Linked DNA regions of Homo sapiens: region 2 is linked to region 1. The links come from fine-mapping of genetic effects on gene expression. Tissue or cell type: whole blood. Region 1 holds a variant in brackets; the other region holds the start of a gene. All regions are shown on one strand. Distances are between the middles of the regions.

What was found. PIP is the estimated chance that this variant, and not a neighbour inherited with it, causes the effect.
Region 2: GK5 starts here. The variant in region 1 is fine-mapped to the expression of GK5 in whole blood (INTERVAL, PIP 0.95).

The regions. Positions count from the first base shown.
Region 1 is chr3:141,992,104-142,000,367 of GRCh38, reverse strand. It overlaps TFDP2 (transcription factor Dp-2), which reads left to right. Exons shown (of 13, transcript NM_001178139.2): 5 at 5,227-5,348; 6 at 6,783-6,830. Among named protein-coding and RNA genes, the nearest start is that of ATP1B3, 120 kb to the right of the region's middle. The variant C/T (reference allele first, on the strand shown) is at 4,692.
Region 2 is chr3:142,221,789-142,229,788 of GRCh38, reverse strand. It overlaps GK5 (glycerol kinase 5), which reads left to right and starts at 4,204. Exons shown (of 16, transcript NM_001039547.3): 1 at 4,204-4,480. The coding sequence starts at 4,334. RefSeq lists silencers at 4,021-4,260, 4,451-4,670.

The DNA.
Region 1 (8,264 bases):
TTTCTGCTATTAGGATGCAACCAGAAGGCATCATCTTTGAAGCAGAGAATAAACCCTCACCAGGCACTGAATCTGCCGGCACTTTCATTTTGGACCTCTCAGCAACCTCCAGAACAGTGAGCAATAAATTTCTGTGGTTTGTAAATTACCCAGTTTTGTACTCCTTGCAGAAGACTTTAAAGAAAATTAATTAATTACCCAGTCTAAGGTGGTTTGTTATGGTAGCCTGAATGGACTAAGACACCCAGTTACAGCCATTTATCGCTTCTCCTCTAACTCCCTCATCCATGATTTTTAAAAAAGTTTTTGTTTAGTTAAAGAATTCTTGGATTAGGCTGGGCGTGGTGGCTCACGCCTGTAATCCCAGCACTTTGGGAGGCTCAGGCAGGCAGATCACGAGGTCAGGAGATCGAGACCATCCTGGCTAACAAGGTGAAACCCCGTCTCTACTAAAAGTACAAAAAATTAGCCGGGCGTGGTGGCAGGCGCCTGTAGTCCCAGCTACTCAGGAGGCTGAGGCAGGAGAATGGCATGAACCCGGGAGGCGGAGCTTGCAGTGAGCTGAGATCACGCCACTGCACTCCAGCCTAGGCAACAGAGCCAGACTCCGTCTCAAAAAAAAAAAAAAAAGGAATTCTTGCATTACAAACTCACCCATTTGCTTCTTAGCCTTCTTTTTGTGCTTGCCCTTTGAACTTTACATGTCTTTTGGAAGCCAAATCTTAATGGTAGATAGAAATTTCAAAAGGCCCCATGAAAAGTTTTGTGTGGTTATGGAAACTAGTTTAGCAGTACCTATTTTAGTTTGAGATACTTGCCCTTTTCTTACAGGCTGTCTTATGGTTATATGTTATAGATCTTAAGATTATTTATACAGTTGACCTTTGACCAATGCAAGGGATAAGGGCACAGCCCCTGTGCAGTCACAAATCCATGGGTAGCTTTTGACTCCCCCAAAATGTAACTATTAATACCTTATTATTGACTAGAAGCCTTACTATAACATAAATAATCAAATAACACATTTTATGTTATATTAATGTTATTTCATATGTTAATATGTATTGTATACTGTATTCTTACAATAAAGTAACCTAGGGAAAAATATTACAAAGAAAATCATTAGGAAAATACATTTATAATTCATTAAATGGAAGTGGATTATCATAAAAGTCTTCATCCTCGACGTCTTCACGTTGAGCAGGCTGCGGAGGAGAAAGAGGGAGGAGTTGGTCTGGCTGTCTCAAGGGTGGCAGAAGTGGAAGAAAATCCATGTATAAGTGGACCTGCCCAGTTCAAGCCCATGTTGTTCAAGGGTCAACTGTATAAGATAATCTAATGGCTGTCTTATTTTAGAAGAGTAAAAACTGCATGCTTCTTATAGTGAAAACCAAAATTCCATCAAATAGTGAAATCTCTTAATATACCACTTTATAATTTTGTAATTTTTTTTCCCTTTAGAATACATATGCTGTCTTGGCTTTTTTTAACTGTAGATGGCAGTAGCACATAAAATATGTTGATTGAGGGCAGGAAAATGTTCAGAGTAATGTTCAATTGCTATGTGATTTTCCCAGAGTAACTAATTCTATTGTCAGAGAAACCACATGATAACATTTAAGTTAAGGATGTCTGGATTTTTGGTAGGAGGACTCTGAAATTTAAAACTCCATTTTCCTTAGCATATCAAGTGAATATTAAAAGTATATTTTTACCTCCAACTTCAGTACTTCAAATTTTTTTTCTTTTTTGACAGAGTCTCGCTCTGTCACCTAGGCTGGAGAGTGTAGTGGCACGATCTCAGCTCACTGCAGCCTCCGCTTCCCAGGTTCAAGTGATTCTTCTGCCTCAGCCTCCTGAGTAGCTGGGATTACCGGCGTGCACCACAACACCCAGCTGATTTTTTTTGTATTTTTGGTAGATATGGGGTTTCACCATGTTGGCCAGGCTGGTCTCGAACTCCCTACCTCAAATGGGAGCCTACCTCACCTGCCTTAGGCTCCCAAAGTGCGGGGATTATAGGAGTGAGCCACTGTGCCTGGCCTGGGATTTCAAAATTAAGGTTCAGGGTTAGAAAGCATGACCGGCTCATCACCCTATAAACCAATTTTCTTATATTCTGTGGCTGTTCAAGTCTTACCGACTTTCCTTCTGTTTTATTTCTTACGTTTCACTCTCATTATCCTAGTTTAGGAACTTACTGTATCTCACATACTCTTAGGCCTTATCTTTCCTATTCAGGTGCGTCATCTCTCTAATTTGTTCATGTAGGAAATGTTTATTAAGGAATTGCTATGTACCAGGCCCTGTGCTAAGAGAAAGGAGCAGAGTGTTGCTAATCACTCTCCGATCAGCCGCAGCTAACAATCTGACAATGAGGGAGGGAAAAAAAGAAAATGTAAACTAGAATTCACTTTCAAAGTCATTTTCATAAAGATAGCCAGTTTTTCTCTATGTCCTCTTTCCCTTCCTTCTCTCTTTTTTTCCTTTCTTTCTCTTTTTTTTTTTTTTTTTTTTTGAGATGGAGTCTCACTCTGTCGCCCAGGCTGGAGTGCAGTGGCATGATCTCTGCTTACTGTAACCTCTGCCTCCTGGGTTCAAGTGATTGTCCTGCCTCAGCCTTCCAGGTAGCTGAGATTATAGGTGCCCACCCCCACGCCCAGCTAATTTTTGTATTTTTAGGAGAGTTAGGGTTTCACCATATTGGCCAGGCTGATCTTGAACTCCTGGCCTCAAATGATCCGCCTGCCTTTGCCTCTCAAAGTGCTAGGATTACAGGCATGAGCCACCATGCCCAGCTCCTTTTTTTTTTCTACAAAGTCCTGTAAATCAGCAAAACCAAGCATGTAGGCTGCTAATACCATATAGAAATACTGCAGTAGTAATACAATCTGTTTCAAGGGTAAATTGGAATGCTTAGAATAGCTTTGTAGACACTGCTGTTCAAGGAATAGGGTTGACCAGAGGCTAATCAAATAACTCACATTTTTCTTTATAAGTTGTCCATCCAAGGTCAGCATGATAGAGAATGTGATGTAGTGATTGGTGGAAACTATGCTGTATTTTTTTAGTGGATTTTATATAAACCTTTTAGCATATCAATAAATGAAGTTACTTTTTCCCCTATTATTTTAAAAATTGAGTATTTTATCCCAGTTAGTAAATATTTATTGTACCTTTCCTATGAGCATCCCCTACCACTGTGTTAAACCCTGCAAAGGACATAGTTTAGCAAGGTACTCGCCACCCCTAAAGATCCTGCACTGAAATGGGGGATGCACTGAAAGTGGGGATGTGGGACCAGATGTGTGGAGTGGGAAGTGCAAGCATACTTGGAATGCAAGGCAGAATTTGATGAGAGGTACAGACACATTGTCTGTTTTTATGTTTTCTCATGAGGCAAACTTCTGAGTGCCTTATTTAATACCCTTGGTGTATTGTACATAATCAGAACTCTCCAGACATCTGTCAGTATTATTAACTTTTGTTTTTATTTTTTTAAACTATGGAATGAACGGATTGAAACTATTTCATAAACATTTCTAGGTGCTAACATCTTCCTAGCCCCAAGCTAACATAGTCAAACATAAACAGACTCTAACTAAGGTCTTAAATACTTGGTAAATGAATAAATGTTGACTAGACTTTAATAACTAGGTCTGAACTATTTTTATGCTTCAGAGGTTATTGTTTGACTCTTTCCTTCAAATGCAAATAAAGAGCTTGAAATGCTTATTAATCCTTCCCTTCAGTTATGTATGGAGCAAGTTAGCAATGAACTTAATGATTCACCCTGGCTGCAGAAACATGTTTCATTTGGTCAGGGAGATAAAAATTAATTAGCATTTTGTCTTGCATAAGGCAGTAGAAATAGAACTATTTCTCTTGTTTGAGGACTTATTAACAATTACTTGTAGTCCCTGTAGATATTTTTCATTCTCAGTTGGGACTTAAAACTTACTATCATGAACACTTTCAAAACTTTACAAAAATAGAACTATATACCCAGCAGTTGCTTCAACAATTATCCACATAGGGGCCAATCATGTTTCATTAATATCCCCATTCACCGGAGCATGCCTCTTCCCCTTTTTTTACATGAAAATACTTCTAAAGCTATTACTAGGCTGCTAGTTTTTTTGTATTAATTATTATAAATGTCTTTGGGAAAAACATGTTTTGTTTTGTAACCAGTGAAAATTTTAAGACCTGGTAACACATATAAGGTACCTTTCTAAAAAAGTCTTTAGGGGTTCCATTAATCCCCTTTCTGGAGTCTAGCCTTAGGAAATAGAAATTAAGGGCAAGGTCTTTGTACAAAAATGTTTATCACAGCATTCTTTATAATAGTGAATAATTAAAAATGCATATATATCTAATAGAGAATAATAAATCCACATGGTAGAATGTTTTATGGTCTTTAAACTATCTTCAAAGAGTATTTAATAACATGAATACTCTTTTTTTTTTTTTTTTTTTTTTTTGAAATGGAGTTTTGCTCTTTTTGCCCAGGCTGGAGTGCAGTGGCGTGATCTCAACTCACTGCAACTTCCACCTTCCAGGTTCAAGCGATTCTCCTGCCTCAGCCTCCCATGTAGCTGGGATTACAGGCGCACAGCACCATACCTGGCTAATTTTATATTTTTAATAGAGATAGGTTTTCACCATGTTGGCCAGGCTGGTCTTGAACT[C/T]GTGACCTCAGGTGATCCTCCCACCTCGGCCTCCCAAATGCTGGGTTTACAGGCACGAGCCACCGCTCCTGGTCCAATACTCTTTTAAAAAAGGATAAAATTGCATCTATATAATAATCCAAGCTGGATAGTATCTTTGTGTATACTGTATGATGGACTGTGGAAGTGTGATTTGCTGTTGCCCTGGTTCTAGTAAATCAAGCTGTACTGCAATTCATTTCCTCAGTTTCAAAGAAAGCTTTTCATTTTTCTGATTTTTAAAGCATTATCAGTTCTCTACTTAATCCTTCCAAATTGCCATTTATTTGCTGAAACCTGCATTGTGACCTCATGTCAGTATTCAGGATACTTGTGCTTTAAGATCCTAGGATATAAGTAAATCAAAGGCATTGCTTATATTTTTAGATGACTGACATTAAGTGCCTTTTAGGCAGCAAGGTTTCCTCATATGTAGGTTAGCAATCAATGTTATTTTCTGCCTGTAGGCTTTTCTTAATAATTAAGAATATTATATTCTTTGTTCCTAACTTTACAGATTATAAGCACACCACAGAGACTAACCAGTTCAGGAAGTGTTCTGATTGGGAGTCCATATACCCCTGCACCAGCAATGGTTACTCAGACACACATAGCAGAAGCTACTGGCTGGGTCCCTGGGTAAGAGTGTTGCAAGTTACTATTTTTAAAACCTTAAAAAAAGTTTAGACATTTTTTTCTTACTATCTTGTCTTCTGTTCTTGTTTTAGTTTAGTTCTTAAAAACAAATGTTTTTCCTTTAAAATCACCTATTTTATTTCACTTTATATCTTAGATATAAATAATCTCTGGAATAACTATTTTTAAACAGAAAAAAACAGTGCAATAACTCATAACTAAACCCTGTGACTTTTTAAACTCTGGAATAGGACTACTTTTATTATTATAATATTTAACTGCTTTGGAGATATAAAAACTATATTTTTATATATTTTTAACTCACACAGAAAAGGAGTTAAATATTAAGTGTTGGCTATACTCAGAATTTCCCCTATGAATTACTTCCATAAAGACCAGAAAAGGGTAGGAAAAGAGGCCAGATAAATTTTTTATTAAATTTCCTCTTCTTTTTAAACGCTGAACAATTGAATCAATATCCCTTCTGTTACTAATTTGTCACTTTTAGTACAAACTTCTATATGTTTCATCTTTGCATGTAAAATACTTATACCTTTCTCCACTCTTTATCATTTTAGTACCTCATACTTCCATAAAAGAAAAATAAGTAAGATAAATTACTCAAAACCTCATTTTGTTACCTTAGACGTTTTGTTACTTTAGAAGTTATTTACATGGTGGAATACTGCATTGGTGATTCTGTCATATGTGAGTTTGAGCAAGCAGATGGTAAGTCTTAGTTAAGTAAGAATCTCCTTGCTTCAAGGATATTAAGTGAATTAATAATCCTGGCAAAGTGCTTTAATATGCATACATATTAATATACATAAATACATGCCTACACACATGTACAAACACAAATACATTAAAGACAGAAGAGTTTTGTATATGCATACTTTTCCATTATCAAATGAGCTGAAATGACAGAATTACCTGGAATCCTATGGGTGTTATTCAATCCTTATGAACATTCTTATGTAGATCAAAGGTTACCCTGGATTTCTCTATAGCCTTGAAAGATTATAACGTGAAAGCCAAGCCTGTGCCAGCAGTGCTGGCCCACTTTGGAAATGACCAGGGTCTGGATGTTTTCAGCCCCATTTGTGCTTTATATTGGAGGTGGCAGGATTGTCTGGTGTTTTTATAGTCAGTATTTCGCAGAGTGAAGAAAATTTTTCTCTATCTTGTTTGCAAGTCTGCAGTGTTTTCCTCTCTAGCTAGTCATTGAGCTCTTTTCAACTTATGATTATTAAGTTGTGATACCTTGTTCACATGATAAAATTAAGATTTATTTTATGTACCTATCTTTTGTATTTGCTAGTTTTAGTCTTTGAATATATTCAGTGTATAATTTTAGACAAGTTATAATAAAGTATTAATGAAATTAAATTGTATTTAAGTATGTATTGTTTTTATGCTATCTTTTTTCCTTTTTAGTGATAGAAAACGGGCTAGAAAATTTATAGACTCTGATTTTTCAGAAAGGTGAGTATAAGTCTAACTATTTTGTTTGGAAGATTTGGCTATATAGAGAGGCTGTTGGCATTGCCACTGCTCTGGTTTAATGCGATGTTTTTCTTCATGTAACTTTAACTTCTTTCAGTTCTTGCCATTATTTCATTCTGCATTGAGTGCCCCAGTTCACTCATAGTATCTGTATGGTTTCAGTAGAAATTACCCTGTGAGCAGATTGACTATTGGTAGTATGTCCTTTAGTCTCTCCTCTCTTTCCATCTGGTAAATGAAGAGTTCTATCAAAGTGAATACTCCACATTACCCTAACATGCCCAAAGTTTAACAATTTTTTCTTTTTTCTTTTTTTTGAGATGAAGTCTTGCTCTGTCACCCAGGCTGGAGTGCAGTGGCGTTATCTTGGCTCACTGCAACCTCTGCCTCCCGGGTTCAAGCAATTCTCCTGCCTCAGCCTCCCAAAGTGCTGGGATTACAGGCATGAGCCACCACACCCGGCTAAGTTTTTCTTAAAACATTTATAAATCATAACAAACTTGCTTCTTTCTTAAGCAATATGTTGGGCATAAGGAAAGTTCATGTTATCTTAGAATATTAGGACAGTGGCTTCTCCATTCTGGCTGTGCATCAGAATCACTTGTAGTCTGTTAAGTAAAAAATAAATGCCTGCCATGTCAGAAACTCCTACATTTTCTAATTTGCTATCTCTGATTTGCTGTGCCCTGAGAAATTAGATGGCCAAATATGTTAGAATTCAGTCTAAAATGAAAGTGACTAGGTTCTGAGTGAGAACCATGGGAATATGTATAAAGGATGTGTGTTTTCTTGCCCTGACACTAGTGCTGTTTCAGTTCCTTGGTGGCTTTTGTTGTTTGCTTCTTGGTGCTAATCGTTTTCAACAGATACAATCACTTCTGAGGAGCTGCTGTATCATAGAAATGAAATGTTCTTTACTCTCTAACAGAAAGTCCTCTTTCCAACTCAAACTGGTCTTTACTGGTGTTTATCCTTCGAAAGGGCAACAGAACAAGTTCTTGCAGAGGTATTTAGCAATGTTTAAGGCCTTAAAATGGAACTATTTGTCAGTTATGATTGGTGGCACCTCTGCACTGCAAACAGTACAAAAACCAAGATTCTCTTTATTCTCCTTTGTAAGTAAGAATTCTAAAGATCTATAAGTGAGAACACATAAAAGTGTTAGGTTAAATTTATAGTGTAGCCATTGGTTCAACTTTCTCTTTCTACATTTGGTTCAGTGGCTTTTTTTCCTAGCATTTTTTTTTTATCATTTTTTAAAAAGTTTTGAATATAACTTTTCTGTAATGTATCCCCACCACCCGTCTGTCAAACCACGAAGATTGCTACATGTATTTTTCTTTATTCCTTGTTCTAAATAAGATTTAGCACAGTGGTGTTTCATTTTTTTCTTTATGCTTTTTTTTTCTTCTT
Region 2 (8,000 bases), 230 kb before region 1:
TGTATATATATATACCATATTTTCTTTATTCACCCATTAGTTGATGGGCACTTAGGTTGGTTCCATATCTTTGCAATTGTGAATTGTGCCATAATAAATATATTTGTGTAGGTGTATTTTTCATATAATGACTTATTTTCTTTTGGGTAGATACCCAGTAATGGGAATCCTGGATCAAATGGTAGATCTACTTTTAGCTCTTTTAAGGAATCTCCACACTGTTTTTCATAGAGGCTGTACTAATTTACATTCCCAACAGCAGTCTGTGTTCCCCTTTCACCACATTCACACCAACATCGACTATTTTTTGATACAGTCAATTTAGTTGTACATTAAAAATAAGAGTATAATTTGATTGTTTGCAACACAAAGGATAAATGCTTGACATAAAAGATACCCTATTTACCTTGATGTGATTATCATGCCTGTATCAAAATATCTCATGTAACCCAAAAATATATACACCTACTATGTATCCATAAAATTTTTTAAAAATTAAGAAAAAAGAATGACTGACCAGCTATCAAAGGCCTTAGAAGCCTCTGAGCCCTGTGCCTTGTTGCCCATATACTCCTTTCCCTTAGAGAAGAGCAGGGTTAGAGGTGCTGACAGAGAACAAAGCAAGTGGGAGAAACAGGTATCTCTTTGTTCTCCCAGGCCTCTCCTACTCAACAGTGAAATAAGATCTTGATTTTTATCTGAGATCTTTATGTTTGCTTTACCCAACACCCAGCACCTGAAGTTATGTGCAAAATTTTGTGTGTATAAGCATCTTCTTGGGAAGATAGTGTTCATTATGGCCTCAAAGTTGTTCAAGATCTGAAAACAATTTGAGAAACACTAGATTAAGTGGTTTCTAAGGCCCCTGTTTTCAAATTCTATGATTTGATAATACTCAATATAATTTATTTGAATTTATAAAAAGGATCATTAAGGAAGTGTCAGGTTTCAAGAAGCCAAGAAATATCACTTTGAGAAATATACTAAATATTAACATCAGGTAATACAAAGCCGTTTTCTCTGTTGTGAATGGGGAACTGATATGGTTACTATTATGTGTGAACTTGGCTAGGCTAGTTAGACACACTGTATGCCCAGCTGTTCGGTCAAACACCAGTCTAGGTGTTGTTGTGAAGGTATTTCTTAGAAATAATTAACATTTAAATTAGTAGACTTTGAGTAAAGCAGATCACCCTTCATAACCTGGGTGAGTCTCATACAATTGGTTTTAAGCTTTAAGAACAAAGACAGGTTTCCCAAAGAAGGAAGTCTCCTCAAAACTGCAACATGGAAACTCTTCTTGAGTTTCCAGCCTGCTAGCCTGCCCCACAAATATCCAGGACTTGCCAGCCCTCACAATCACATGAAGCAATTCCTGAAAATAATAAACCTCTCTTTCTCTTTCTCTCTATCCTATTGTTTCTATTTCTCTGTAGAACCCTGACAAGTACTGGACCCATTAGTCATTTATTTCGAATTACAATAATTCACACACACACACGACCAAAATGGCCAGCACTGGTGAAGGCAGTCAGTCCTTGAGGCCACTTGGAACAAATCAGTACTGTTGAACAGGGTACAAAGAAAAAAAACATACTCTTCCAGGTGTATGTTCCAAGCTTCACGTTGTATGGCCAAAGAGCCAATTTTGTCAAATTGTCTGAAAGCAAGTTGATTAACACGACAATTTGGTCAAAAGAATGACTTGGCCCTGTGCAGTGGCTCACGCTTGTAATCCCAGCACTTTGGGAGGCCGTGGCGGGCGGATCACGAGGTCAGGAGATCCAGACCATCCTGGCTAACATGGTGAAACCCCGTCTCTACTAAAAATACAAAAATTAGCTGGGCATGGTGGAGAGGGCCTGTAGTCCCAGCAACTTGGGAGACTGAGGCAGGAGAATCGCTTGAATCCGGGAGGCGGAGGTTGCAGTGAGCCGAGATCGCAGCACTGCACTCCAGCCTGGGCAAACAAGGGCAAAACTCCGTCTCAAAAAAGAAAAAAAAAAAAAAAGAATGATTTGGCTGGGCACAATGGCTCACACCCATAATCCCAGCACTTTGGGAGACAAAGGTGGGAGGATCACTTGAGGCCAGGAGCTCAAGACCAGCCTGGCCAATATGGCGAAACAGAGTCTCTACAAAAAAATGCAAAAATTAGGCGGGCGTGGTGGTTGTAGTCCCAGCTACATGGGAGGCTAAGGCAGTTGGATCGCCTGAGCCCGGGAGGTCGAGGCTGCAGTGAGCTGAGATGGCACCACAGCACTCCAGCCTGGGCGACAGAGCAAGACCCTGTCTAAAAAAAGTTTTGATTCAAAATGAGTATGTATGTATGTATGTATGTAAGTATGTATGTATGTATGTATGTATGTATGTATGTATGTATGTATGTATTTTGAGGCAGAGTCTTGCTCTGTCGCCCAGGCTGGAGTGCAGTGGCATGATCTCGGCTCACTGCAACCTCCGCCTCCCGGCTTCAAGTAATTCTCCTGCCTCAGCCTCCCCCGTAGCTGGGATTGCAGGAGCCCGCTACCACGCCCGGCTAAGTTTTGTATTTTTGTAGAGACGGGGTTTCACCATGTTGCCCAGGCTGCTCTCAAACTCCTGACCTCAAGTGATCCGCCCGCCTCGGCCTCCGAAAGTGCTGGGATTACAGTCGTGAGCCCCCGCGCCCAGCCAAAATGATTATCTTTTACCTTTTAATTGACATACCAGTTGGCACTGTTAAACGTTTTCACACAAAACATATATTCATATGTTTGCTAATTTTACAAAAAGAAGATAAGGAATATTTTCAGGCCCCGGCTTCACAGATTGCTGGTGGCAGTGGAGAGGTGGGTGGCGCAGGTGGAACCACCTCCCCACTACTTGCAGATCAGGACCCTCCCCGGGAAAGCTCCAGGCCCAGGAACCTAAGCCGCAAGAATCTCGAAATTTCCACAGGACACCTTGTTCCTTTTGGCCAAGTGTCTGGATGAGCCCATCCCCTTGGGCAGCAACAAAAGGTAAAGGGTCTCTGTGAGGCTTTCAGATTCCAAAAAAAAGCAACCGCTGGAGTGGAGTGTGATGGTCAAAGCAGCCACCTTAAGCTTTCTCCTTTCTTTCCCACTAGAGGGCTGAGAAAAGTCTTCTTCCTTGCGTTGTATTTCATTTGGCAAATATTTACCGCTTTGTATTGTGTGCAAACTTTACCAGGTTTTCTGGGAAGAGAAGTCGTGGGGAGCTCTCAGTTTGTTAATAAATATTAATACTTTTGGCCAAATTTTGAATTTTTTATGTCACTTGTTTTATTTCATTTTTGAAAAACAGCACTTTATTTCATTTAACTCTAGCATATTCAATGGCTGTGCATTTAATAATACTGAAATAAAGTCGCACCCAAAATGTTAGCAAAAAAATGGAAACTATATATGGTAGTGACCTCTACAAATGTTTTAAGCTTGAAAAATTCTGCACGAACGCAGACACAGGTTAGTCTGCCAAAGTTACTCAGATAAAAATTTCTCCAACCCTCAAGTCATAATCATAGTTGAGAAATGAATAAATGTGCCTTATGGCACCTCCAAACTTTTTGAGATTTTTATATAAACTAGCCTATACTTCTCTCCTTACGATTAGCATATGGGGTAGCTATTTTTCTTTAACAGAGATTCTTCAAATGTAGCTAGGGTTAAGAGAAACGCTGGCGCTGCCTCTCAGGAAGCTGGAGAAGCAAAAGAAAAAATTAAGAGTTAAGGGCCGCCGGGCTCGGTGGCTCACGCCTGCAATCGCAGCAATTTGGGAAGCCGAGGCGAGCGGATCACGAGATCAGGAGATCGAGACCAGCCTGATCAACATGGTGAAACCCCTTCTCTACTAAAAATACAAAAATAGCCGGGCGTGGTGGAGCGCGCCTGTAATCCCAGCTACTCGGGAGGCTGAGGCAAGAGAATCGCTTGAACCCGGGAGGCGGAGGTTGCAGTGAGCCGAGATCGCGCCACCGCACTCCAGCCGGGGCGACAGAGTGAGACTCCGTCTCAAAAAGAAAAAAAACAAGAGTTAAGGGCCAAGTCAATCCAACCGCGGCCGGCGACTGGAGGCTGAGCATGGCTGGCGATCTGGGGCTGCAGATCACGGCGCAAACCCGCTCACCTCCACCCCTCCCGCGCGGCCGCCGGCGCGCGCCCGTGGCGTCACGGCGTCGGGGTGGAGCCGGCGGCAGGGGCCAGGCCTCTCTAGGCTCTCCGGCTGAGCCGGGTTGGGGCCCGGGTTGGGCCGCCCGGGGACTCTGGAGCATTGGGATTTGTAGCGCGCCCTCTGGGTAGGCGGCTGTAGCGGAGAGGCGTGCGGGATCGGGATGTCGGGGCTGCTCACGGACCCGGAGCAGAGAGCGCAGGAGCCGCGGTACCCCGGCTTCGTGCTGGGGCTGGATGTGGGCAGTTCTGTGATCCGCTGCCACGTCTATGACCGGGCGGCGCGGGTCTGCGGCTCCAGCGTGCAGAAGGTGACTTGGGGGCGGGCGTGGGGCGCGGGTCTGACTGGGTTTCGCTGAGTCCCGGGGTCCGGCCTCGGGAGGCGAGCGGGCAGGCCCCACCTACCGCCCTGGACGCGGCCACCTGCAGCACCCGCGGGCCCTGGGGCCAGAACGGCGCGCCCAGACCGGCTGAGTCTTCGCGTTCCCTCCCTCGTCTGGGCTGAATCCCGCGCGCCCTTCCTGTCCAGGCTGAGGGTGCCAGGGGCCCGGTGTATGACCTGGGCCGCTCGCTTGCCTCTTGCCACCTGGGGAGCCACCTGTCCGGCCTTACCTGGATGGGACTGAGGTGACTCGCCGGACGGGACTGGGCAGGCTGTGCACATCCAGCCAGAGGGTGGTTTGTGAGTTGCTTGGTTCTTCCTGCACTTCCCTGATAGATCTCCCACCACATCTTTATTTACATTTTAATTTTTCAAAACTTTTTTTCTTTTTTCTTTATTATAGCCTTTGGACTTGTGCCTCAATAACTTTTCATATCTTTGTAGAATTTAAGTTTATTCTCTATTCTTCACTTGTCATCTTTATTAACTACTACTCCACAAAATGCTGGTTCCTTACGTGAGCAACTGATTGCCGTGGATATTAGAGGTATTGGGCAAGTTTTGAAGGCTGTGTGGTCATCAGTTTTCTATTTTCCATCTTTGAGAATTCATAAAATTCTTTATTTCCCCTCGTTTGAGAGACCTGCCAAATCATTGGTTGGTTGTTAGTAAAGCCTTGAATTGTTGATAATATTGGTCAGCAACCAACAAATTGATATCCTTCTGTTCTCATATTAATGAAGTGTTGATTTATACACAATTGTCAATGCACCAAAAATAATATTTATTTGTTATGGTGTTCTTATTGTTGTTCCTTTTTTTCTTTTGAGACAGGGTCTCACTTTGTCACCCAGGCTGGAGTGCAGTGCTGTGATCTCGGCTCACTGCAGCTTTGACCTCCTGGGCTCAAGTGATCCTTCCACCTCAGCCCCCCAAGTAGCTGGGACTACAGGCAAGGGGCCACCATGCCTGGCTAAATTTGTTTGTATTTTTTAATAGAGATGGGATTTTGCCATGTTGCCCAGGCTGGTCTGGAAATTCCTGGGCTCAAATAATTCACCCGCCTCGGCCTCCCTAAGTGCCAAGATTACAGGCGTGAGCCACTGCAGCCAGCCTGTTATGGTGTTCTTATTTTCTCTTCCCAGTACCAACATCTTTTTATGTTAGAAATTTGAGGGAGGGCCGGAGCCATCAGTTACCTAACCATTCCCAGCAGCACTGTATTCCCCCTTTTTCTCAGTGTCCCGTTCTTCTTCCCACCACCTTAGAGGTGTTTTTCTTTGTAGCACTTGCCCAGGAGCAAGGTCCAGCTAGAGTGCCAGTGAGTAGTGACTGCTTTGAGCATTTGTTCTGGGGAAACATCAGACTTCCTTCCATTAAGTTTTTCTTTTTTTTCTTTTTAGACGGAGTCTCGCTCTGTCACCCAGGCTGGAGTGCAATGGCATGATCTCGGCTCACTGCAACCTCTGCCTCCTAGGTTCAAGCAAGTCTCCTGCCTCAGCCTCCTGAGTAGCTGGGATTGCAGGCACCCGCCATCATGCCTGGCTAATTTTTGTATTTTTGTAGAGACAGGGTTTCGCCATGTTGGCCAGGCTGGTCTTGAACTCTTGACCTCAGGTGAACCGCCTGCCTCAGCCTCCCAGAGCACTGGGATTATAGGCGTGTGCCACTGTGCCCGGCCTCCATTCAGGTTTCAGGACCAAGACAGTGGAACTGGGATTGTAGCAGCTCCCTGGTCCCTTCTCTGGCTAGCTGTGTGGGAACACTGCCCACCCACCCACACACTATCCCTATCCCAGCCTGAAAAGAAAAATGAAAGGCAGACACCACCCTTCAGTGACTGGGTACTCATTACCTTTCTAAGAGTATTTATCACAAAAACGATACTTTTTAAAGTCTCCCTTATAATTCTAGACACAAAGTACTTTTAAGCACTGTTTTTTTGTTTGTTTTTGTTTTTCTTTTAAGGAATTGAAATATTTGGAACCAAAGGGAGAAATGAATTACTAGAAAATGCAAAGTTTCACAGTTAATATATAATTTGGGGCAGATCATTAGTTTTTTTAGGAATGAAGTGAGGAATCTCAAAGATGGATCAAGATTGCTGTGAGTGGCAGGAGGCCAGGAAGATTTGCACAGACTCTAAACTGTGGAAAATGTGTCTGGATAAAAGAAAGATATGAGTAAATAAAAATACAAAAAAAATGCCTGCTCTTCCCGGATAAAGCACAGTCGTAGATTAAGAAATGTGCAGCAATGCCTCTCTGTGTGGTAGGAGTTTATAGCAGTACTGCTTAAAGTGTAGTTACGGGGCTGCTGGGATTGAGATAATAAAAGAAAACTAAGCATTTAGAAACTTGTGTAGCAACTTAGCAGAATAATTTTATGTCTATTGACTCTAGTAATGAAACGTTTGGGATTTTATTTTGTATGCCTTTTTTTTCTGGAAACTTTATAAAAATTATTGTTATTTTTAGAGACAGATTCTAACTCTGTCCCCCAGGTGGCCTGATCACAGTTCACTGCAACCTTGAACTCCTGGGCTCAAGCAATCCTCCTGCCTCAGCTTCCTAAAGCTCTGGGATTACAGGCACGAGTTACTGCACTAGGACTAGAAACTTAATTGTATCTTAAAAATTGCTGGTCCACAATGAATATAATTTTTTTTTTTTTTGAGATGGAGTCTCGCTCTGTCGCCCAGGCTGGAGTGCAGTGACTGATCTCGATTCACTGCAAGCTCCGCCTCCCGGCTTCATGCTATTCTCCTGCCTCAGCCTCCTGAGTAGCTGGGACTACAGGCGCCCGCCACCAAGCCTGGCTAATTTTTTGTATTTTTCATAGACATGGGGTTTCACCGTGTTAGCCAGGGTGGTCTCGATATCCTGACCTGGTGATCCACCCGCCTCGGCCTCCCAAAGTGCTGGGATTACAGGCATGAGCCACTGCGCCTGGCCAATGAATAGAAATTTTTTAAAAAAACAATTAGCAACTGGTCCTTTACTGCAGATAATTTGAGTTTTTTGGGAACAAGGATCTTGTTGGTCTACATTGCTGCTTAGTACCTGGTTTATTACCTCATTGTTACAGAATAAATAATTGAATTGCAGTTAAAATGTTAGGAATTCATGGGGCTCTATGACTTAGACACAGAACTTGATTGTGTTTATTCTGTCAAGTGAAAATTACACCTCTTGTAATATTCCAATGGAAAGAATGTATAATAGAAACCTAAAACCTCTTAGTGTATGATTTGATTATACTGGGAAAGAAATTTTTAAAAAAGAAAAAATAAAGAGATTCCCCTTTGTAGACAAGAACAAAATAGGCTGTGAGAAGACGTCAATCTTACTTCTTGTGGCCTTTATTTTTTAAATGTTTAACAGTAGAGATACATTTTTAGCTTTTTTCTGTAATTTGTATTTTTAAAAAATCTTTCTTAGGGACTCTTA